Linked DNA regions of Homo sapiens: regions 2 and 3 are each linked to region 1. Evidence: fine-mapped QTL for protein levels in blood plasma. A gene starts in region 1. Each other region holds a variant in brackets. All regions are shown on one strand. Distances are between the middles of the regions.

Region 1 (8,164 bases):
TGACCTTATCTTCCCGCCCCCTAGCTCCTCCCCGATGCCATAACCCCGCCCCTAGCTCCTCCTCGAGGCTTTAGTCCCTCCCTCTAGCTCCTCCTTGAGATTCTAACTTCGCCCTTTAGCTCTCCCCGCCCCTAGTTTTCCCCTGAGGTCATAACTCCGCCCCAGTCCCTTCTTGAGGTTTCAGCCCCACCCTGTAGCTCCTCCCCGAGGTCGTAACCCCCGCCCCTTGGCCCCTTGAGGTCCTAGCCCAGCCCCGTAGCTCCTCCCCAAGCTTATAACCCCGCCCCTAGCCCCTCCTTGAGGTTCCAGCCCCGCCCTCTAGCTCCTCCCCGAGGTTATAATCCTGCCCCTCAAGAGTCTAGTCCCACCTTCTAGCTCCTCCCGAGGTTATAACTCCGCCCTCTGGTTACGCCTCGAGGTTATAACCCCGCCCTCTGGCTCCGCCTCGAGGTTCTAGCCCCGCTCCTAGCTCTTCCTCGGTCTGTAACCTCTCCCGTAGCTCTTCCTTGAGGTTCCAGCCCCGCCCTCTGGCTCCTCCCCGACACTCTCTCCCCGCCCCAGGCTCCGCCCCGAGATTGCAGCCCAGTCCCTAGGCCCGGTCCCCGACCTCCGGGCCTTCCCGGACATCCCTTTCCAGCTGCGCGTTCGGAGTATCCCGGAGCTGTTACTCATTCCCGGCCTCCCGCGGTCTCGAGCGCTTTCCGGGTTATTCATCGCGGCCCCAACACCCTGTGGCCACCCGCCCTGACTCAGTTCCTTCTCGAATTCCTCGACCCAGAGCCCCCCACATTTTCCGGGGAAGTAAGTGAGAGTCGCCTCAGTGAGAGGGAAAGGTCCTGAGGGACAGTCCCGGGTCTCCAGCACTGGCTCTGCGCCGCTCAGTCAGCCTCCCTTTGGGCCTTTTGTAAAAGGGGGTCCTGTCCCCCCGTTTCTCAGAGGGGGAGACCCAGCAGCGTGGAGAGCGCTGGGGGGCGCTGCAGGGTCAGATCCTGCGTATTCAAGCACTGGCTGTGTGATTTTAGGCCAGTTATCTAACCTCTCTGTGCCCTAGTTTCCTCTGCGAAACGAAATTAATAAAGTCCCATCGCCTAGTTTGAAATTGCAAGGAAGAGGCTTCGAAGAACTCCATTTAAAAAAAGAACACTTGGGCCGGGCGCGGTGGCTCACGCCTGTAATCCCAGCAGTTTGGGAGGCCGAGGCAGGTGGATCATCTGAGGTCAGGAGATTGAGACCATCCTGGCTAACAGAGTGAAACCCGGTCTCCACTAAAAATACAGAAATTAGCCGGGCGCGATGGCAGGCGCCTGTAATCCCAGCTACCCAGGAGGCTGAGGCAGGAGAATCGCTTGAACCCGGGCGGCAGAGGTTGCAGTGAGCCGAGATCGCGCCACTGCACTCCAGCCTGGGCGACAGAGTGAGACTCTGTCAAAAAAAAAAAAAAAAAAAAAAAAGCACTCACTAAATTATGTAAAGCTAAATGCCTTTGCTCCACTAATATTTCCTTAGCTACTGAGTGCCAGGTACTGCGCCGCGTGGCGTTGCACAAAGCACGAGAATTACTATTATTTGATTAGGGAGGATGCTGAGGACTGAACCGCATTCCTCCAACTCATCCTCTGACAACCCCCAACCCCCTCAATTAGACCCTGTTCCAGGCGCAGGCGTTCGGGACCCAGCCCCTACCTGGGACGCAGGTGTGGAGCAGCAGCAGCAGCGGCAGCAGCGGCGGGTGACCCATGTCGCGAGGGCAGCTCCTGTGCGCGGGGTCCCTGCACGTCTTCTCTCCTTCTGGCCTCAGGAAGGAGGCAGTTTTGTGGCCCCAGGGACTCCTCCCAGACGTTTTGCGAAAGAGCGAGTCAGCCCCAGATGCGTGGGCGCCTCCCCCTCCTCCCGTACGAACCTCCTCCGCCACAAACTTCCCTTCCCGGGGCGCGGCCGGCTGGTGGTGAAGGGGCTGGCTCGGCCCTGACTCATGGAGTTGTGATCACAGCTCTGTCCCCAGATTGCCTGGGTGCAAATCCCAGTTCTCTCTCTTCCTAACGTGGGACCCGGGGCAATCGCTCTCCACTGCTGTAAAATGAGGATAAAAACTTTGACGGTAAATATGAATGTGGCTGATTATTTGGCTAACAGGATTTTTGTTAGTTTTGTCAGGAGGGATACTGGTATTTTGGAAAATGTCCTTATCTAGAGATGCATCCTGAAATATGCATCTCTTAAACACTTAAAACACTTAACCCTTGCTTTGCTTCCCGCTGTGCCCCCAGCTCCTGGACCAGTGCCCAGCACGAAGTAGGTCCTTGGTAAATGTTAAAGGAATGTGTTGAGCCCTCCATTTTGGCCAGCAGCTATTCCAGGCATTGCACCTACATTAAAACACTTAATGGTGAAACCCCGTCTCTACTAAAAATACAAAAATTAGCCGGGCGTAGTGGCGTGTGTGTGTTACTTAGGAGGCTGAGGCAGGAGAATCGCTTGAACCCGGGAGGCGGAGGTTGGGTTGCAGTGAGCCGAGATCGTGCCACTGCACTCCAGCCTGGCAACAGAACAAGACTCCTTCTCACAGAAAAAAAAAAAAAAAAAAAAAAAGACACTTCAGCCAAAAAAGTAGATATCACTGTTACGACAATGGCTGTATGCTTAGGTGGGATTCTGGTTTTTGTTTGTTTGTTTGTTTTTGCAGATGCTTACTAGAGTATTTAGTGGTGAATGTTATTGATGTCTGCATTTTTTGTTGTTGTTGTTTTGGGGATTTTTGTTTTGTTTTTTCTTTTTCTTTTGTTTTCATTTTGATGTCTGTATTTATTTTATAATATTTTAGAAGAGGTCAGATGAGGTGGCTCATGCCTGTAACACCAATGCTTTGGGAAGCCAAGGCAGGAGGATCACTTGGGGCCAGGAGTTCAAGATCAGCTTGGGAAACATAAAGAGCCCTCATCTTTCCAAAAGAAATTAAAAATAAAATAAAATTAGCTGGGTGCAGTGGCCCGTACTTGTAGTCCTAGGTAGTTGGGAGGCTAAGGTGGGAGGACCGCTTGAACCTGGGAACTGGAAGCTGCAGTGAGCTATGATTGCACCACTGCACTCCAACCTGGGCAACAGAGCGAGACCCTGTCTCAAAAAAATAATAAATAAATAAATACTTGAGTAGAAAATAAAGGCAAAATAGCCAAATGGTTGTATCAATTATATAAAGGTAATCAGTATATAAGGGCATATTATGCCATTCTGTCTCCTTTTCTGTGGGTTTGAAAAGGCTTATAATAAGTTTTTTCTTTCTTTTTATTATTTATTTATTTATTTATTGAGACGAAGTCTCACTCTGTCACCCAGGCTAGAGTGCAGTGGTGCAATCTCGGCCACTGCAATCTCCGCCTCCTGGGTTCATGCAATTCTCCTGCCTCAGCCTCCTGAGTAACTGGGATTACAGGGGCACGCCAGCACACCCGGCTAATTTTTGTATTTTTAGTAGAGATGGGGTTTCACCATGTTGGTCAGGGTGGTCTCGAACTCCTGACCTCAGGTGATCCACCTGCCTTGTCCTTCCAAAGTGCTGGGATTACAGGCATGAGCCACTGCACCTGGCCAAGTTTTTTTTTTTTTTAAGTAAAATAAAATACTAAAGATAAAATTGTCTCCCCGTCTTAGGATGCATCTAACTAAACAGAGCAATTTAATGTAGGTGCAATGCCTGGAATAGCTGCTGGCCGAAATGGAGGGCTCAACACATTCCTTTAACATCTACCAAGGACCTACTTTGTGCTGGGCACTGGTCCAGGAGCTAGGGGCACAGCAGGACGCAAAGCAAAGTTCCCACCTTTTGTTGTGTTGACAGTGGGGAGCAGATATGTGTTATCTAATCTTTCACTGTCTGAGAGGGATAAGCAAACTGGAGAAAACAAAGCAGGCTGAAGGAAGTATCTGGGTGCAAATGAGGTGTGAGCTGTTTTAGGTGGGTGATCCAGGAGGGGTTCCCTGAGCAAGTGGCATTCAAGCAGAGGCTGAATGCAGTGAGGGAAGAAGTAGGGCAGATGGGCAGGGAACCTTTCCAAGGAGCAGGAACAACCAGTGCAAAGGCCTTGAGGTGGAAGCCTGATGAGATTCTAGGAACAGAAGAGATGTCAGTGTGGCTGGAACAGATTAGGAGAGGAAGAGAGTCGTAGGGGATGAGTAAGTGGTAGCTACTTCTACTGCTGTAATAATGATTATACTATGTGATTTGTTGTCGTTGTTGTTGTTGTTTTTGAGACAGAGTCTCACTTTGTCTCCCAGGCTGGATGCAATGGCGTGGTCTCGGCTCACTGCAACTTCCACCTCCCAGGTTCAAGGGATTCTCATGCATGCCTGGCTATTTTTTTTTTTTTTTTGAGTCGGAGTTTCTTTCTTGTTACCCAGGCTGGAGTGCAATGGCACGGTCTCGGCTCACTGCAACTTCTGCCTCCCAGGTTCAAGAGGTTCTCCTGCCTCAGCCTCCTGAGTAGCTGAGATTACAGGCATTCTCCACCATGCCTGGCGAATTTTTTGCATTTTTAGTAGAGATGGGGTTTCACCATGCTGGCCAGACTGGTCTTGAACTCCTGACTTCAGGTGATCCACCCGCCTCAGCCTCCCAAAATGCTGGGATTACAGGCTTGAACCACTGCGCCCAGCCCTAATTTTTGTATTCTTAGTAGAGATGGGGTTTCGCCATGTCGGCTAGGCTGGTCTCGAACTCCTGACTTCAGATGATCAACCTGCCTCAGCCTCCCAAAGTGCTGGGATTACAGGGGTGAGCCACCGCACCCGGCCCTAATTTTTGTATTGTTAGTAGAGATGGGGTTTCACCATGTCTGCCAGGCTGGTCTCTAACTCCTGACTACAGGTGATCCACCCACCTTGGCCTCCCAAATTGCTGAAATTACAGACATGAGCTACCGCTTCCAGCCTGTACTATGTGATTCTTACTAACTCATTGAAGCTGTAAGCTAATGATTTTAAGATAAGGTTAGAAAACAAAAAACAAAAAAACTCCCAATGGTGAGCACAGTGGTTCATGCCTATAATCTCAGCACTTTGGGAGGCGAAGGCTGGAGGATTGCTTGAGCTCAGGGGTTCGAGACCACCCTGGGCAACATAGTAAGACCTTGTATCTATAAAAAAATAAAATTACAGCCTGGACAACATAGCGAGACCTTGTCTCTATGAAAAATAGAAAAATTAGCCAGGTGTCGTGGTGCACACTTGTGGTCTCAGCTACTCTCTGGTTGAGGTGGGAGGATCACTTGAGCCCCAGGGGTTTGAGGCTGCAGTGAGCCAAAATCGAGCTACTGAACTCGAGCCTGGGCAACAAAAGTGAGACTGAAAAAAAAAAAAAAAAGAACTCCCAGAGAATTTCCTAAGAGGTAGTATAGCCCAATGGTTAAGAGTGTGGGAGCTGGTCTCAGATTGTGAAAATCTAAATTGCATCTACATATTGGCTGTGTCACCTCTAGCAGGTTACTTAATCTATCTCTGTGCCCAAGCCCCTTATCTGGAAAGTAGAGATAGCAAGTATCACCCTCCCAGGGCTGGTGTACTGCGGAGGTAAAAGAATCCACCTAAAATGACTGAGCATGGTGGCTCATGTCTATAATACCAGTGCTTTGGGAGACCAAGGCAGGTGGATCACTTGAGGTCAGGAGTTCAAGACCAGCCTGGCCACCATGGCAAAACCCTGTCTCTACTAAAAAATACAAAAAAATTAGCTAGGTGTGGTGGCATGCACCTGTAGTCCCAGCTACGCAGGAGGCTGAGGCACGAGAATTGCTTGAACCTGGGAGGCAGAGATTGCAGTGAGCCGAGATCGCACCACTCCACTCCAGCCTGTGCGACAGAGCTAGACTCCATCTAAAACAAACAAACAAACAAACAAAAAGAAGAATGCTCCTAAGATGCTTGCCACAGTGCCTGGTACATAGTATGTGCTCAATAAAAGCGATAGCTGCCAGTATTATCATTGTTGCAACTCTGGACATTCACCTCTTCCTGGAGTAGGAAGGGAGATGGAGGCCTGTCATTGAGTCTGACGTCAACAGTTATCACGCGTCAGCTGCTGAAGTGGGCACTTCCCTGGCTGGGTCACCCTGGGCCAATGACATTCTTCTTTCTGAGCCTCAGTTTTCTCAGCTGGAGAAGGGGATCCCTCTTGGGCTGGTGTGAAAACTAAACTAGATCGGAATGTACATGAGGTGGGGAAATAGACAGTTGGGGTGTTGGTCCAAGCAGGCTTGAGACCCAGCTCAGCCACTTGCTTCTGGGTGACCCTGGGCAGATGGCTTCACTCCATCAATCCCCGGCTTTGCCACCTATGAAATGGGTCTGGGGTGGGTAGGGGGCATCTCTCAGTGAAGAGAAAACTCAGGTTTGAGGGTCATGCGGAGCTGTGTGCTGTGCTGCTACCACTTCCTGGTGGGATGACCTCACTTCTCTAAGCCACAATTTCCCAATTTCCCTTTTTTTTTTTTTTTTTTTTTTTTTGAGACAGAGGCATGATCATAGCTCACTGCTGCCTTGAACTCCTGGGCTCAAGCGAAACTCCCACTTCAGCCTCCTGAGTAGTTGGGACCTAGGGGTGTGCACCACCATGCCTGGCTATTTTCTCATATTTCGTGTTTTTTGTAGAGATGGAGCCTTGGTCTGTTCCCCAGGCTGGTCTTGAACTGCTGGGTTCGAGTGATCCTCCCGCCTTGGCCTCCCAAAGTGGTGGGATTACAGGTGTGAGCCACTATGCTCAGCCAATTTCCTCTTTAACGAATGAGAGGTATTTCAGAGCCCACTCATCCCTGCCCAAGGCTGCCCTCGCCTCCTGAAATTTCTGTCTCTCCCTGTGTCTTTGTCTTTTTCTATCTCTCTGTTTTGTTGTTTTCTTTGTCTCTGTCCCTCTTTCTCTCTCTCAATGCCTATCTCTCTCTCTCTCCAACTCTATCACTTTCTCTCTCTGTACCTCGATCTCTGTATCTGTTTGTCTCTCTCTTCATGTCTTTTTATCTCTGCTTCTCCCTTTTCTCTGTCTCTCCCCATGGCTCTCTTTCTCTTTCTGTGTCATTGTTTCTGTTTCTCTTTCTGATTCTTTCTCTCTGTCTCTCCCTCAAGTGACACACACACACACCTGTAAGGTTCTGCTGACGTGTAAAGGGAAGGGAAATGCAGGGATCAGGACCTGGACACTCTCCAGAAACACGGCAGGGATGTCGGCTCCTTCCTCCTCGTGACTCACCTGGGCCTCACCCAGCTCTTGCCTGCCTGCGGGATCATGGGTGAGGCCCATGGGTTTCGGGGGCTTCCCCAGCCTGTGGAGAGGAGAATTTCAGGCAGAGACAGAGAGGGTGATAGAGGAGGAGGCAAAGAGAGGGAGAGACAGAGAGAGAGAGAGAGAGCTGGGGATAGAGATGGAGGTGGGGAAACGAGGGAGAGGGAGAGAGAAGAGACCCACAGACAGACTGGCTCAGGGGAAATCTGAGATGGGGGTGTGGGGGGAGTGAGAGAGACAGAAAACAGCAACCGAAGAACAAGGACAGGGAGAAAGAAAAATGGGCAAGCAGGGAGAGAGAGAAGATAAGAGACTGACAGAGGAGTTAGAGAAAACAACACACAGTTGCCTTCAGAGAACACAAAATAGACACAGAGATACAGGGACACTGTGTGTGTGCGTGTGTGCATGTGTGCGCGTGTGTGCATGCGTGTGCATGTGTGTGAGTGTACGTGCATGCGTGTGTGCGCACACATGTGTTTGTGTGCATGTGTGTGCATGTGTGTGTGCGCGCACGTGTTTGTGTGCCTGTGTGTGTGTGTGTGCATATGTGCATGTGTGAGTGTGTGTATGCATGCATGTGTGTGAGTGTGCCTGCATGCATGCGTGTGTGTGTGTGTGTGCACCTGTTTGGGGCTCCCTCATCCTCTTGCCACCTGCCATGATGAAGTGACTGCCCTCTGGCCTGGCCGCTGGGAAGGTCCTTCTCTGGTTGGGGAGGTGGGGGGGATGGGGGGTGGCTGAGCTGATGGTAGGGAAAGGGCCATCGCTCATAACCTCCCCTTTCTGGGACGCCTAACAGGCCACACTGATGTGGCTTTCAGATCCTGGCCTGGACACCTCTTAGATGTAGAGGACCTCTCCACTCAGGGCCTCCCTGGGGAGTGGAAGAGCTGG
Region 2 (8,173 bases), 110 kb after region 1:
CCTATTTGTCTTTCTCTTTAGCTGTACTTCTCTATCTTTCTGCATTTTTGTCTCCATCTCTCTTTTTCTCTCCATGTATCTCTGTGTCTCTGTCTCTCTCTGTACCTCTCCCCATCCCTCCTCCTCCACCCCACCTGGTGCTTTTGGATATCTCTATCCAGTTCCCTTGGACTCCCTAGGGTTTTGCACCTGCCTCTCTGCCAGCCCCTCCCCCTGGGGAGCAGGTGTCTGGGTCCTTTGCAGAAATGAGCTCATTAGATTGAGATGGAGGTGGTGAGGGGCGGTGGATGTTATTAAGAGAGTCCTCAAAAGGGGACTGAGGAGCTGTGGCTCAGGCCTGTAATCCCAGCACTTTGAGGCAGGAGGATTGCCTGAGTCCAGGAGTTCAAGACCAGCCTAGGCAACAAAGCAAGGTCCCATCTCTACATAAAATAAAAAGGGTGGAGGGTGACCCTTAGGGTCATGTATTTTAACCCTCACCCCAATTTACAGATGGGGAAACTGAGGTTCAGAGGGTTGTAACAGCTTCCCCAAGGTCCCACTGATAGAGGCAGTGGCCTGGCCATGGTGGAGGGAAGGAAGAAATGAGGGGTGAGAAAGCAGAGGGGTGAAGTGGGGTAGGATGGACCCCGTCTCTTCCCATCTGCCAGGGTCACTGTGTTCCCACCTCGGCTTCTGGGTGCGGTGCTTCGGCGTGGGAGCGGCGGGCAGGCCCCGGCCATGCTTCCTGTTGGCATGGACTTCGGCGGCCCCACCCCCTCAGTGCCCGCCGCCTGCCAGAGGAAGCTGCATGCCTGACCCTCCATGTGGCTCCTGGTCACTTCAGAGCTGCCCACCACCCCCTCCAGATCCAAGTCGGAACATCAGACCCTCAGGAATCTACCCAATCTTCATATCAGTGTCCGCATCTGGCCCTACCAGCCCAGTTCCACAACCCTTCTGCCAGAGAGGTCTCCAGCCCCTCCTTTCCTGTTGAGCAAGTCTGTTCTCCCCTCAAGCCACTTATTCCAACCCTTGTCCTTGATCTGCCCCATCACTGGCCTGACCAGGGCTGGAATGTGACGGGAGCCTGCTGAGACCTGCCCTGACCCCACTTTCCCCTTTCTTCCCTACTCACCACTCATCTTCGGAGTCAGCCCCTCTTCCCCAAAAGCAATCAAAACCCCCTTCTCCTTAAGACTCAGGAATCCAGGACCCAGCCCCCTCCTCTCCTGGTACCTAGGAGTCCAGGCCACTGTAAGCCTACCTCTCCACTATTTCCCTGACTAATCAGCATGCAGATTTGGGGAGAAATTGAGCTTGTTAACAGTGGAGACTGGGTTGGGGTTGGTGGGGGGAGGCAGGTCGGGGGAGAGGTTTGTTTCCCATTTCCCATCCCCACCCCCAAGGCAGTTTTTTCTGTCCTTTGCATCTAAGGCACTGGGTAAACATTAGAGGTTAGACAAGGACCAAAGAGCTGCCGCCTACTGGAAGAACTTTGTCTTTCCTCCACTCTCCCTTCACCAAACCTGGGGCTACCTCTCCCCTTATTGGCTCTTGGGGGGCTTGAGTGTCTGATCAGCCACCCTCTGGCCTCCAGGGGTCCTGGACCTCTGGCCGTCTAATGGCAACATCTTCAAAGACTGAAACACTGAAACAAATATTCCCTTCCTTTTGCAGAGAAGGACCCCAGCAACTGTCTCCTGGGAGCACCCAGGAGTCCCAGCCAAAGCCCCTCCTCCCTCAGACCCAAGAGTCTAGGCCCCCAACCTCTCCTCCCTCAGATCCAGGAGTCCTGACCCCCAGCCCCTCCTCCCTCAGACCCAGGAGTCCAGACCCCAGCCCCTCCTCCCTCAGACCCAGGAGTCCTGACCCCCAGCCCCTCCTCCCTCAGACCCAGGAGTCCAGGCCCTCAGTCCCTCCTCCCTCAGACCCAGGAGTCCAAGTCCCCAGTCCCTCCTCCCTCAGACCCAGGAGTCCTGACCCTCAGCCCCTCCTCCCTCAGACCCAGGAGTCCTGACCCCCAGCCCCCCCTCCCTCAGACCCAAGAGTCCTGACCCCCAGCCCCTCCTCCCTCAGACCTAGGAGTCCCAGCTCCCAGCCACCATGCCCCACTCACCGAGCACCCCCCGAACCACAGCATCTCTGCATGCAGCACCATGAGTCCAATGCCAGTTCCTGCCAGCACCAGTGCCCAGCCGGCCAGAGACTTCTCCTGCTCCAGCAAGCGCTTTCGGCGTCTCAAGGCCCCCAGGCCAAGCACCAGATCCCCGCCCATGGCCCCCGGGGTCTTGGGGCTCAGCCAGCTTCCTGCCCAGGGTCCCCCACCTCGCAGCACGCACAGGGCAGCCACTGTGGCTTGCAGGTCGTCAGCCTGCTCTGCTGGCTCTGGGACTTTTGCTCTGAGGCACAGCAGAGCCCTGTGCCCTCTGGGGAGTGGTGACGGCCAGGCAGGGCGGGGAGGGGCAGGGGAGGCCCCAGGGTAGGGGGAGGCTCCCCAGCTCCCCCTTTTGAGAATAAGGAGGGGCTAGGGTGTGTCTTGGGGCAGAGCAAGAAAGAGACGTCCATCCACGTGGATAAAGACACACACAGACACACGATGGGCTTTGTCACACACAATGGTCTGTACTTTGTGACACACACCTCTACTCACCACACCCAGACACCGAAGGACACTCCACAGCCCAAGACGGAGACTAACACACCAGGGCACACAACACAACCTACACAGAGTGACTCACAACTCCCAGCAAGCTCTGAAACCCACAGCCACACCCAGACACCACACACATGGTGTGACACACACCAGCACTTAGCAAGCAGGCAGTATCCCGTGGCACACACAGCCACCCAAACACCGTCCACACACAGGCACAAATATTACACTCAAAGTTGTCACAACTTTCTCTGACACAAAGAGCCACACCCAAACACCACAAATAGGACGATGCACAACTGTGGCCACACAAACACAACATACACCAGGTGTTACACAAACACACAATATATATTAAAGTAGTGACGCCCTGATGCCACACACCACACACCGACACAAACACTGTGCAGTCCCAGTTTCCTAAACACTACACACCCTTGGAACGAAACCCAATACGTGTAGACACACAACATTTAGGGACATACCTATAGTAGCCCCCAATCACCCAGAGCTAGAGAATTGCACATACATTGTGGCGCCTGTTGACTCGAACACAAGTGCTCGCAGTGATGATTCAAAACACGCACTGATTCAGCATGCTCTGATGTGTGGTGCGATTCAAATGTATGGTCAGAGGACAAGCTGAGTGGATGCATGCAGAGACCTACAAGGTACAGCGACACACGGAGAAACCCAAGAAGCACATGCCTGAAGCAAGATGATTCTGGTATATTCTGGCCACACAGGACAACATCCAGGATGATGCCCTGGGGGAAGGGGATGGGGTTGGACCTTCATAGACCCCAGTGCCCAAATGCAACATACGGCTGGGTGCAGTGGCTCATGCCTGTAATCCCAGCAGTTTGGGAGGTTGAGGTGGGAGGATTGCTGGAGCCCAGGGGTTTGAGACCAGCCTGGGCAACATAGCAAGATCCTATCTCTAAAACAAGCAAAAACAAAAAAACAAACGCAACATACACCATCACCTCTGAGCCATGAGCCACACCCAAACATGACATACAATACCTCCACACAACCCAACACGTTATATTCCAACATGCGTGGCCACACAACAACATACGCGGAGTAATACACCAGCACACAGTAACGCAAAACACATAAACACAATGTTTTCCAACACACCCAACCTTCCACAAACGACCACATGTCCCATAAAACACCAGATGTCAC[C/G]ACTCACTGATACTACTGACACTGAGGTCTACCGCCACCCACACAACACCAGCATCGGGGGAGGGGGGTGTATCCTCTGACACAACATAACACACAGCTACACAAACACAAGACACTTGGGGTGGTTGGCACTCAGGGTGGGTGCTGGGGGCTGAGAAGGAAGAGGCCCCCAACAGGGACATGGACCCTGACGTGAGATACAGCAAATGCCAGTGTGGAATGTGCACGGTGACTCTCAGAGCAACACACAACATAGGACATCTCCATGTGTCGCAGCACGAGCCACTCATGGATCTGTACACCATACGCTCCGACACAGATCAAACCCTCCTGTGGAGACACACAGGCATGCACTGACCTGGTGACGCACATCACCTCCCAGCATCATGCACTGAACTGGTGACACTGCCCTTGGCCTCATGCACACCCCTCTGCAAGGAACCTGCGGACACAACCCTCCCCCTCCTTGTGTCCTAGGTCGTGTGGGACCCTGGACCCACCAGCCCCAGGGAAGCGAGACACGCACAGACATGTCTGACTGCACACCAAGGCAGCCCACACAAACACACCCAGAGACACCAAACCATACACATGGACACGCCCAGTGGCAAAAACACAACCCTTGCGGGGGCTCCGCCCCTCGGCACACACAATTACCCACTCGGCGAGACTTGGCGGGAGAGGGCTGGAGACACACCCGGGCGCGCCCAGACACCACACATGCGTCCACTTGGGGAAAGTGCAGCCGCCGGGCACTCCTGAGCCTGCAGCCTGGGCACCCCTGCCCACTGGCCGCCCGGCTCGCTGCGTCTCTCTCCTCCCTCTCCGGCTCTTTCTCTGGTTCTTTGGGACTTGCTTCCTGTCTCAGTCTCTCCTGATCTGGAAACCTCCGCGTTTGTCTTTTTTTTTTTTTTTTTTTTTTTTGAGATAGAGTCTTGCTCTGTCTCCCATGGCTGGAGTGCAGTGGCACGATCTCGGCTCACTGCAACCTCCACCTCCCAGGTTCAAGCAATTCTCCTACCTCAACCTCCCGAGTAGCTGATATTACAGGTGTGCACCACCACACCCAGCTAATTTTCGTATTTTTAGTAGAGACGAGGTTTCACCATGTTGGCCAGGCTGGTCGTGAACTTCTGACCTCAGGTGATCCACCCGCCTCGGCCTCCCAAAGTTCTGGGATTACAGGCGTAAGCCACCGTGCCTGGCCAGGTTTGTCTTTATCTCTGTCTCTGTTCTTCTCTCCTGGTACCTTTGTCTCTCTCTGTCTCTCTTCACTCTGTCTCTCTGTCTCTGCCTCTCTTAGCCTCTCTGTGTCTCTCTCATCGCTCTGTCCCTTTCTCCATCTTCGTGTCCCTCTCTGCTCCTCTGTTTCCTTCTTTCCCCGTCACTGTCTCTCTGTCATGTCTCTCTCTGTGTTCATCATTGCCTGTGTCTCTGTCATCGTGTCTCACTCTGTCTCCATCTCTCCGTCTCTAGGGCCCTCTGTTTTTGTCTGTCTCTTGCTGAATCGGTGTTTCTCTCCGTCTCTGTTTCACTCTCTCCCTGCCTCCTGGTCTCCTCTTGGGTCTCTCTCTCTCTCTCCGGGCCTCTCTATGCTTGTCTCTGCCTCAGTTTCTCTCTGCTGTTCACTGGCACATCTACGGACAGCCTGGTTCCTTCCGGTTCTACCCCAGTCCCACTCAGGGGTTGAGGGCCAGTGATCCAGAGACTGTGGCCACCCAAGGGTCAGAAGCCACTAAATAGCGCTCCAGCTGCGGCCATGCCATGGCATCTGTGCCCCAGTTCAGGCACTTGTGAAAAACGGAGACAGAGACTGACACAGAGGGAGAGAGAGATAATCAGAGAGACCTCGAGGCATTCAGCCAGGGATGGTGGGGGCATGTATTAAAAAAAATCAAAGAGACCCACAGGTGCAGAGAAACCGGAAAACACAATCAAGACACGGAAGTTAGAGCACAGAGAAATTTTGTCTCCAAATAGGCCATGACTGAAAGAGAAAAACAGCAAAGGATGGGCATGGACATGCCTGGGTGGCAGTGATGGGGTTACAGTGGGAAGGGCACCTGCCTTCAAACTGCAGTCCTGGGATGCAGGGGTCAGTCCTAGGAAACTGCTTCACTCCTCAGCCAGCTGCCTCCAGCCCAGGGAGGGGCCAAGGGGGGAGGGCGAGGTGACTCAGGGCCTCAGGGCTTCTTGTGACTCACCCTTGGTCTCAATCCTAGAATGGGGAGTGGAGGGAGAGAGGGGTTTGTGTAAAAGAGAGGGAGAGGGAATAGTAGAGGACCTCAAAATGCCTAAGAGGAAGGGTCCAGGAGGAAGAAGCTGGGGGTCTGGACTCCTGGTTCTGAGGGAGGAGGGGGTCTGAGGGAGGAGGGGCTGGGGTCTGGACTCCTGGGTCTGAGGAAGGAGGGGATGGGGTCTGGACTGCTGGTCTGAGAGAGGAGGGGCAGGGGGTCTGGACTCCTGGTTCTGAGGGAGGAGGGGGGCTGGGGTCTAGACTGCTGGTCTGAGAGAGGAGGGGCTGGATCTGGACTCCTAGGTCTGAGGGAGGAGGGGCTGAGGCCTGGACTCCTGGGTCTGAAGGAGGAGGATCTGGGGTCTGGACTCCTGAGTCTGAGGGAGGAGGGCTGGGGCCTGGACTGCTGGTCTGAGGGAGGAGGTGCTGGGGTCTGGACCCCTGGGTCTGAGGGAGGAGGGGCTGGGTCTCATACACTGGAAGAACTGATTCCAGAGTCTCCAGGATTTTTCCTTGGCCTTGTCCCAGCTGCACCACCTCTGTCGCAGCCCCATCTCCGGGCCTGGAAAGAACCCAGGTGCCTCGGGGCCCAGCAGGAAGGGGCCAGGGACAAAGAGTTGTTTAACTGGGCAGGCTGGTGAAGGAGAGTGAAGAGGGTGTCTCAGGCGGAAAGGTCATTCATCGCCCAAGGCTTGTGCAGGGAAAGGCAGGGCTGAGCCCCGAGGAAGAGATCCTGAAAGTCAGAGGTCAGTGGCGGCAAATCCTCCACCGCCATCTCTGGGACCTTGGAGCCTGGAAGCTCCAGGGCTTATAAATACTGTCACCTAGTGTTCACTTAGGCAACTGCAGACACTCTCCCTGTCCAGCCTGGTTTCTTGCCAACATAGAGCAAAACACCTACTGAGTGCCAGGCACTGCTCAAGGAGTTGGCGATATGTAATGAACAAAAATGGACAAAATTCTTGCTCTTGTGGAGTTTCCAGGCTAAAGGAGGGAGACCTCGTGATTCCATCAATCTCAGTCTCTTCTTTGCTCTCAGTCTTCATTTTTCTCTCTGTATATCATTGTCCTTGTTTTTTCTTTCTTTCTCTTTTTCTTTCTTTCTTCTTTCTCTCTCTCTTTCTTTTTTCTTTTCTTTCTTTCTTTCTTCTCTCTCTCTCTTTTTAATTAAAAAACATTTTTTTGGTCATAAAATCAGTTCCCACTATGTTGCCAGGCTGGTCGCGAACTCCTGGTCTCAAGCCATCCTCCTGCCTCGTCCTCCTAAGGTGCTGGAATTACAAGTGTGAGCCACTGCGCCTTGTCTTGCTTCTCTGTTTCTATCTCCTGGTCTTAGTCTCCAAGTGCATGCTTTTCTCCTTTCTCCTTTTTTCTTCATTTCTGCTTTTATTTTCTTCTTTGTATCTCTGTGTTCCCCGCCAGTTAAAAATGTATGTATATTATGTTATTACACAGAGACATACACCCACACTCTATATATAGTATATGCAGATATGTAGTATAGTATATGGCATAGTATACAGATGTATAGTGTATACAGATGTATATGATATACAGATATCTATATCTCACAATATGGAAGTCTAGAGACCTCGGTTTAAGCCTCGATGTGACCACTGACTTTATTCATTCATTCATTCATTCATTCAAGACAGAGTCTCGCTCTGTCACCCAGGCTGGAGTGCAGTGGCACGATCTTGGCTCACTGCAACCTCCACCTCCTGGATGCAAGCGATTCTCCTGCCTCAGACTCCCAAGTAGCTGGTACTACAGGCATGCACCACCACACCAGGCTAATTTTGGTATTTTTAGTAGAGACGGGGTTTCACCATGCTAGCCAGGCTGATCTTGAACTTCTGACCTCAGATGATCCACCTGCCTCAGCCTCCCAAAGGGCTGAGATTAGAGGGATGAGACACCACCCCCGGCCTAACTTTATTTTTGTATGGAATATGTTATACGTACAGCCTGGTTTAGAGACAAACCTGAGTTCAAACCTAGTTGCCATCCATAGTTGTGTGCTCTGTGAAACTTGTAAAAGAGGGATTATGTTTCCTATGTGACAGGGCTGCTTGAGGCTTAGGTGAGAGAGAATGTCTGGAGCCCTAACA
Region 3 (8,159 bases), 660 kb after region 1:
TCAATCCAAAAATCTGAAATGTGAAATGCTCCAAAATCCAAAACTTTTTTAATGTTCTACATGATGTTCAAAGGAAATACTCATTGGAGTATTTCAGATTTCTGATTAGGGATGCTCAACTGGTAAGTATAATGCAAATACTCTAAAATCTGAAAATATTTGAAATACAAAACACTTCTGGTCCCAAGCATTTTGGAGAAGGGATATTTAACCTACATACAAATAGCATCTACATAATTCAGGATATCTGATGCCTCAAAATCAGGACTTTGCAGCACGACCTGGACATCGAACATGATGGCTGTGTTCAAAAGGCTTAGTAAAACCATAAACATGGCTGGGCATGGTGGCTCATGCCTGTAACCCTAGCACTTTGGGAGGCCAAGTCGGGTGGATCACCTGAAGTCAGGAGTTTGAGACCAGCCTGGCCAACATGGTGAAACCCCATCTCTACTAAAAGTACAAAAATTAGCCAGGCGTGGTGTTGCACACCTGTAGTCCCCGTTACTGAGGAGGCTGAGGCAGGAGAATAACTTGAACCCATGAGGCAGAGGTTGCAGTGAGCTAAGATCATGCCACTGCACTCCAGCCTAGGCAACAGAATGAGATCCTGTCTCAAACGAAACAAAACAACACAACTATAAACATGTTATCATGGATTAATCATGGGTTTCCAGGAGATCTGAAGGGGAAAAGAGGATGTTCTTAAAACTGGAAAAATATAGTTGCAAATGGACAAACGCCTTTTGTCCTAATAAGTTTTTCTTTTTTGTCTGGCACATAAACATGATAATGTTGTTCATTTGTAAGTGTACTGTGTGCGTTAAATGATATGCTGAAGAAGGTAAATACAGACTTTTACTTTATGTTTGAGGCATCACATATCCTGTCACTAATGAGCTATTTATCCTCATGAGAATAATAAGCTCTTCTTCAGATTATGAGACTAACGCGCTGCCAGCTGCGCTAAGAGGGCTTAGAGAATAATAAGCTCTTCTAAGTCCCTGTAGGCCATTACAGATTTTAACTCTTTTCAAAAGATATTTCACAATTATCAACGGCCATGGTGTAGGTCAAAATGTGAAAGACTGTGACAGAATTCAACTAAAAAAATCAGAAAAAAATTATGGCACCTGTAGGTGTCCTCTGAGGTGCTCATTAGCCAGGAACAGAACTCAATGAATACTGACTTTTGCTTGTGCCATTTTACTGGAAAATTATGTTAGTGTTTAGGAAATTTGAGGCACCAGAAAGGGTTGAAGACAGGATATTTGGGTAGAAATAGTTACCTAGTTATTAAAGCTCAGATTATAAGCAGACAGCAGATCTTCATATACTAGTGACAAATATCCTCCCTAAGGACAACTGGTTAAACAGGGTTGAATTAATAACATGCATTCTTCTAACACTTAGAAGTAGATTAAGTCTCTATAATATCCAGAAGAAAAGCAGTAAAAGGGATGTTTTTTCATGAATATTACCCTCAAACATAATTCTGCCTTATTTCTTTGTGTTTGTCTGCCTCTCCACACTGGAATGTATTATCCATGAAAACAAACACTGTTTTGTGCACTGCATTCCTTTCACTGCCAAGTGAACAGTAGTTGCTCAATAAACATTGATGAATAAATCATAGTTTGAGTTGCTCTCACTCATAGAACTAAAAGAGCATGTAATGTAGCTTTTTAAATGGGAAAGGAACTGGTGATGGTGGCAACTTTGCTGGAAAGCTGAAAGGCTATAGGAGACGTAGGGCGACAATTCAGAGTGATACTGCTGATGAGAAAAGCAAAGGTCACAAGAATCTACTGTGGATGAAATAAAAATGTAAGATCAAAAAGACCCATAGGCAGGGCCTGTGGATTGAGTCTTTCTCATTTTTAAAGTAACTTTTTAAATGGTACAACTGTGAGCCAGGCATGGTGACGCAATCCTGTAGACCCAGCTACTCAGAAAGCTGAGGCAGGAGAAATGCTTGAGCCCAGGCATCTGAGGATGCAGTGACCTATTAATATAATTGCACCTGTGAACAGCCACTGCAACTCCAGCCTGGGCAGCATGGCAAGACTCTGTCTCAAAAAAACCCAAAATGGTGTAATTTTTCTTGAACAAAATCTTACCCGTAAGCCCTACCCTATCCCAACTTTTAAAAAAGGAAAAAAGAAAAGGCCACACTGATGAATCTGTATCACTAGGCTCTGGGGCAGCACACTGATTGTGGGATAACACTTCAAGGTATATCAGTAGGTATGCATCTTGGTACTTTAAAAGCACATTTACTGATGTCTTTGCCTTCTCAAAAGTGAAGCTTTCAGTTATTATAATGATATTTTATCATATAATGATGAAATGAAGGGATATATTATAGGAGGCATATCAGATAAAGTATATAGCTTATATGTGAGAAGTTTGAGCTTCCAGCTAGGGTTAATCATAATCCTTGTAGTTTTGTTTTACTATTATAAAAAACACTCAATATACATCCATAAAGATACAGTTTAATATGTCCTGTCTTTTGGGACTGATGTAGTGGCTTGAGAACATGAAAGTAGCTTGTTAGTCAAAACCCAATTTCTCACAAAGCAACTGTTTCAATGCAAATTAGTACATAATTCATGATATAAAAATCTCTCAAATATATGAGATTAAAGTTTCTCTCTGAGCAGTGGGTTTTGCAATGTTAAGGACATAGAGGAAGAAAAAAAATAAAAGGTCATTTCACTTTGTTTCACACTCTTCTAAAAAAGACCACACATGTAACAACATTAATTTCCTTTAGTCAATGGTATAGACC[G/A]AAACACCTTGTTACTTTATTTAAATAACTCAACATTTAAGTTCTATTTCAATATCAATGGTAGAATGGTAATAAGAAATTGTGTTAAGTTTATAAATGAACTTTATTTGATGGAGAAACTAAGCATGACAAAAGATGCCGAAGACATCATTTGAGGTAAGAAGGTTGAGAATTTATTACATCTTCATAGCAATCCTGCTTTAGCACTTAGAGGTTGAGAAAGTCAATGATTCAAGCAACCCAAATTGATCAATTCAATAACAAAGGTGCTATATTTGTCATAAAGACAAGTAATTCCTTTGAATTTAATAGTTAGCTATAATGAACTCAGAGAAAAAAAATCTTTGTTTATGTCTTCTTCTTCTTCTTCTTTAATAAAAGCTAAGCGAGAACATCAGCTCAGGTTACCCAGGCTGAGATCACCTTCCGTTCTTACTTCGCTTTTAGATAGAGACAATACAAGGTATAGTGGTGACAATGTTTTGATCACAAATATTTAAGCTGCTGTGCTGACTCCTTTCTTAACCACTGATATGGTTTCGCTCTGCGTCCCCACCCAAATCTCATGTTGAATTGTAATTCCCAGTGTTGGAGTTGAGGCCTGGTGGGAGGTGATTGGATCATGGGGGTGCTTTCTAATGGTTTAGCACCATCCCCCAAGTGCTGTCTCGTGACAGAGTTCTCAAGAGATCTGGTTGTTTGAAAGCATGTAGCACTTCCTGCCCTCTTTCTCTTCCTCTTTCTCTGCCATGTAAAACATGCCTCCTTCCCCTTCACCATCTGCCATATTTATAAGTTTCCTGAGGCCTCCCCAGCCATGCTTCCTGTATAGCCTATGGAACCATGAGTCAATTAAACCTCTTTTCTTTATAAATTACCTGGTCTCAGGTAGTTCTTTACAGCAATGGGAGAATGGACGAATAAAGAAAATTGGTACCAGAAAAGTGGGGCATTGCTATAAAGATACCTGAAAACGTGGAAGTCACTTTGGAAACAGGTAATGGGCAGAGGTTGTAATAATTTGGAGGGTTCAGAAGAAGACAGGAAGATGAGGGAAAGTTTGGAATCTCCTAGAGAATTGTTACATGGTTTTGAACAAAATACGGATAGTGATATGGACAGTGAAGTCCAGGCTGAGGTGGTCTCAGATGGAGATGAGGAAGTTATTGGGGACTGGAACTGGTGATATATTTAGATATATTTAGGTTTGTAAATGCATTTATACATTTTCCCAACATTGGTGCTATGCTTTAGCAAAGAGACTGGCAGCATTATGCCTCTGCTCCAAAGATCTGTGGAACTTTGAACTTGATAGGGATGATTTAGGTTATCTGGTGGAATAAATTTCTAAGCAGCAAAGCATTCAAGATGTGGTCTGGCTGCTTCTAACAGCATATGCTCATATTTATGGGCAAAGAGATTATCTGAAACTGGAACTTATATTTAAAAAAGAAGCAGAGCATAAAAATTTGAAAAATTTGCAGCCTGATCATGTGGTAGAAAAGAAAAACCAATTTTCTGGGGAGAAATTCAAGGCTGCAGAAATGTGCCTAAGTAAAGAGGAGCTGAATGTTAATAGCCAAGAAAATGGGGAAAATGCCTCCAGGGCATTTCAGAGCCAGTCATGACAGTCCCTCCTACCACAGGCCTGAAGGCCTAGGAGGGAAAAATAGTTCTGTGGCTCAGGCCCAGGGCCCTGCTGTTTTCTACAGCTGAAGGACACGGCACCCTGCATTGTAGCTGCTCCAGTTCCAGCCATGGCTAAAAGGGGCCAAGGTATAGCTCAGGCCATTGCTTCAGAGGGTGCAAACCCCAAGCCTTGGCAGCTTCCACGTACTGTTGGGCCTGTGGTGTGCAGAGGGCAAGAGCTGAGGCTTGGGAACCTCTGCCCAGATTTCAGAGGATTTATAGAAACACCTGGATGTCCAGGCAGAAGTCTGCTGCAGGGGTGGAGCCCTCATGGAGAACCTCTACTAGGTCAATGGAGAAGGGAAATGTGGGGTTGGAGCCCCCAGAGTCCCCACTGAGGCATTGCCTAGTGGAGCTGTGAGAAGAGGGCCACCGTCCTCCAGACCCCAGACCCACCAACAGCTTCCACCACGTGCCTGGAAAAGATGCAGGCACTCAACGCCAGCTCATGAAAATAGCCAAGTGGGCTATACCCTGCAGAGCCACAGAGGCAGAGATGCCCAAGGCCTTGGGAGCTCATCCCTTGCATCAGCATGCCTGGATGTGAGACATGGAGTCAAAGGAGATTATTTTCGAACTCTGAGATTTAATGACTGCCCTGCTGGGTTTCAGATTGGCATGGGGCCTGCAGCCCCTTTGTTTTGCCTGATTTCTCCCTTTCAGAATGGGGGCATTTACCCAAAGGCTGTAGCCCCATTGTATCTTGGAAGTAACTAGTTTGTTTATTAGAGTATTATGCATCCATTACAAAAACAAGAGTTATAATCTTAGACTGGGAGGGATTTCCCCAAGGTAACGGCAAAGAAGAAAAATTAGTATATTAAAAACAAGAATGTACATAACAAATTTTTACATTAATATGAGGTATATGATCATGTTAGTATAGGTAAAAAAATTAAGGTATTTTAAAAGGTGACATTATGTTCCAGCTGACAGTATCAGGAAGGTAGACTGGCACAGCATGGCCTCGGCCTGTTTCTGTACAACCCAGGAGCCAAGAACGCTTTCTACATTTTTAAAGTGGTGTAAGAAAAACAAAGACTGTGACAAAGAGCACATGTGGCCAGGAAAATCTAAAGTATTTACTACTTGGACCTTTAGAGAAAAAGTTTAACTCCTACTCTCAAGGGTACCATGTAGGACCCTGAATCTTAACCAAGATGGAAACAAACCATTATAGAAATGAGTTAATTTGTTTTGAATTTTCTGTTGACTCTTTCTTCTTATCCAGCAGCATCCTTAGCTACACAGTTGCGACGGTGGCTTTTGATGTCAGTCTTGAGGACTCAAGAAACTATCAAAATGTTTGGATTCACATAAATGTCCAACTTGAAGATTCTACTTTAAGACTGTGGCTATGTCAAGAGATTGTTTGGGTGCGAGAGTATGGGACAGAATGGGAGGATAAGAAGATGGACATATGAATACAAGGGTGTCTCACTTGAAAATGCTGCATGAGGAAGACCAGTTATAATGTTGGCATTGGTCATTTTTGATACTTACTTTAGCTGATTGGCTATTCTTATCTTTTAGGATTAATGGCTACCCATCTATGAATACTCAAGGACAGCTAAGCAGTTAAAACAGGCATCCATCAGATGAGAAACAGTATTCTAGAATACCCTTCAATTACACAGATTTATTCTACACCTATTAGCTGCCTCAGGGTGAATTGAAGAGAGCAAAGATCATGCATCTATTACCCAATTCATTCAGAGAGAAAAGCAAGTCAAGGAAATTGACACAGAAGCATAATTGAGAGGTCTGAGGGGGCAATCATGGGGCAGTGCCTCTGAAACAGACTGAATGAGCAAAAACAAACAATGGTAGGTGAATATGGAAAGTGAGAAGAGGTTGAGGGGACAGATACCTTAGGACCTAATAGACCACTTTAAGTACTTTAAACTTACTATGTGTGAAATGGGGAGCCACAGGAAAGCTTAAACAGAGAAGTGATGTGTTCTGACTCATGTTCTAGAAGGGGCTCCCTGGCTGCTGTGTTCCTGCAGCACAGTTCTCACCTGAACATCCATCTCTTGGGGTTTCTGTCTCCACCATCAAAAGCTTTTCTTCTCTCTCCAGCTGGGATATTAGGTCTGGCTTGAAGGGCTGATGTGCTGTAAAGAAGGAAAGGACAGCAAAAGTTTTTAAGTTTGATGACATTCAATTGGTCAAAACTAGACAAAAAGGTATACACAGACAAGTGAGACTCTCTCCCACATCCCTTCCACCCTGTTACCTTCCACTCACTATAAGAAACTAACTTCATGATTTTCTTTTTTTTTTTTTTAAATAGGCTCTCACTTTTCTGCCTGTGCCAGCATGCAGTGGCATGATCACAGCTCACTACAACTGCAGCCTCAACCCCTGGGCTCAAGCAATCCTCCCACCTGGGCCTCCAGAGTAGCCGGGACCATGGGTGTGCATCATTATGCCCAGCTAAATTTTTTGTAGAGACAGGGTCTCCCTGCATTGCCCAGGCTGGTCCTGAACTCCTGGGTTCAAGCAATCCTCTTGCCTTGGCCTCCCAAAGTGCTGAGATTACAGGTGTGAGCCACCACGCCTGGCCATTATTTTCATTAAACCTTCCTTCTTGTGTTTCTTCTTATAAAAATAAGTATATATATAAAATATATATTATTTTTATATATTACATATATTTTTATATATATTATATATATTTCATATATGTATAAAATATATATATATTTTGTATATGTATAAAATATATATACATTTTGTATATGTGTAAAATATATATTATTATATATATTTTATATATAATAATATATATAATATATATTTTATATATAATAATATATATTATATATATATGTCTGTACCCACACACTGTCTATTTACTTATTTTACCTTATTTCTTACATGAATTGTAGTATACTATTAATATTCTTTTGGACATGGCTATTTTTAGGGAAAATCCCCAGAAATGGGTTGCCGGGGAAGGGTAAATACCTAGCTTTGTTAGATATTGTCAACTTCCCCTCCCTAAGGGTTGTATCATTTTGCATTCTTCCTTTCAACGCATGAATGTTCTTCATTCCCCACAGCTTTGCCAAAAAACGTATAGTGTTACGTTTTTGAATTTTTGCCAATTTCATGGGTGAGAAATGGCATTTCAGTATAATTGTAATGAACATTTCTTTTGAAATAAACTGAACATCTATTCATATGTATACATATTTCTATGTGTGTATATGTGTATGTATATACATACACATACACACACACACACACACACACACACACACACACACACCCTAGCTCTATGTCCTGAGACAAAGAAACATAGATCATAGATACTACAGTGACCATACCTAGCATCCAGACTTTGGCATTAAATACCATTCCCCAGTTAAAAAAAAAAAAAAAAAAAAAGATAATTCCAGAGCCAAGGCAAAGTAAAGATGAGCACAAAATACTGTTCTCTGCCAACAAAGTAAGAAAGTGCTCAAAAAAAAAATTGGGGACATGTTACAAGGTCACAGGAGCCAGCTTAAAGAGGCCAAACTTGGGACAATTTTAACATCTAAAAAATTACAGTAATAAACTATAAACCTTTAAAAAATTTCACAAATCCCTACAAATAACATTGAAATGATGCTTGAGAAGTGGGGGGCTCTTGTTGACTGCAAGTTTATGCCAGGTGCTGACTGCT

Alleles and levels. Alleles are on the strand shown, and positions count from the first base shown. The strength of an association depends on the size of the effect and on how common the allele is.
For the plasma level of the protein whose gene starts at base 1,787 in region 1, allele C in region 2 goes with a higher level than allele G (moderate association).
For the plasma level of the protein whose gene starts at base 1,787 in region 1, allele A in region 3 goes with a lower level than allele G (weak association).

Evidence for each region. PIP is the posterior inclusion probability: the model's chance that the variant is causal. Protein levels are from antibody-based Olink assays in UK Biobank. Linkage for the fine-mapping came from a reference panel and not from the study's own genotypes, which makes the PIPs less certain.
Region 2: its variant is fine-mapped to the plasma level of the PLAUR protein (UK Biobank, PIP above 0.99).
Region 3: its variant is fine-mapped to the plasma level of the PLAUR protein (UK Biobank, PIP above 0.99).

The regions. Positions count from the first base shown.
Region 1 is chr19:43,668,383-43,676,546 of GRCh38, forward strand. PLAUR (plasminogen activator, urokinase receptor) reads right to left here and starts at 1,787. Exons shown (of 7, transcript NM_002659.4): 1 at 1,684-1,787. The coding sequence starts at 1,738. It overlaps LOC124904724 (a long non-coding RNA gene), which reads left to right and starts at 382. Exons shown (of 3, transcript XR_007067264.1): 1 at 382-801; 2 at 1,644-2,098. RefSeq lists silencers at 286-515, 556-635 and enhancers at 1,556-1,855, 7,052-7,151.
Region 2 is chr19:43,778,605-43,786,777 of GRCh38, forward strand. It overlaps KCNN4 (potassium calcium-activated channel subfamily N member 4), which reads right to left and starts at 2,369. Exons shown (of 9, transcript NM_002250.3): 1 at 2,099-2,369. The coding sequence starts at 2,257. RefSeq lists enhancers at 757-1,256, 1,615-1,744, 4,108-4,157, 4,298-4,467, 5,813-6,107 and 2 more, silencers at 2,351-2,620, 5,813-6,107 and cis regulatory regions at 4,135-4,601, 6,602-7,049. The variant C/G (reference allele first, on the strand shown) is at 3,827.
Region 3 is chr19:44,330,119-44,338,277 of GRCh38, forward strand. It overlaps ZNF112 (zinc finger protein 112), which reads right to left. Exons shown (of 4, transcript NM_013380.4): 3 at 6,505-6,600. Among named protein-coding and RNA genes, the nearest start is that of ZNF112, 22 kb to the right of the region's middle. The variant G/A (reference allele first, on the strand shown) is at 2,795.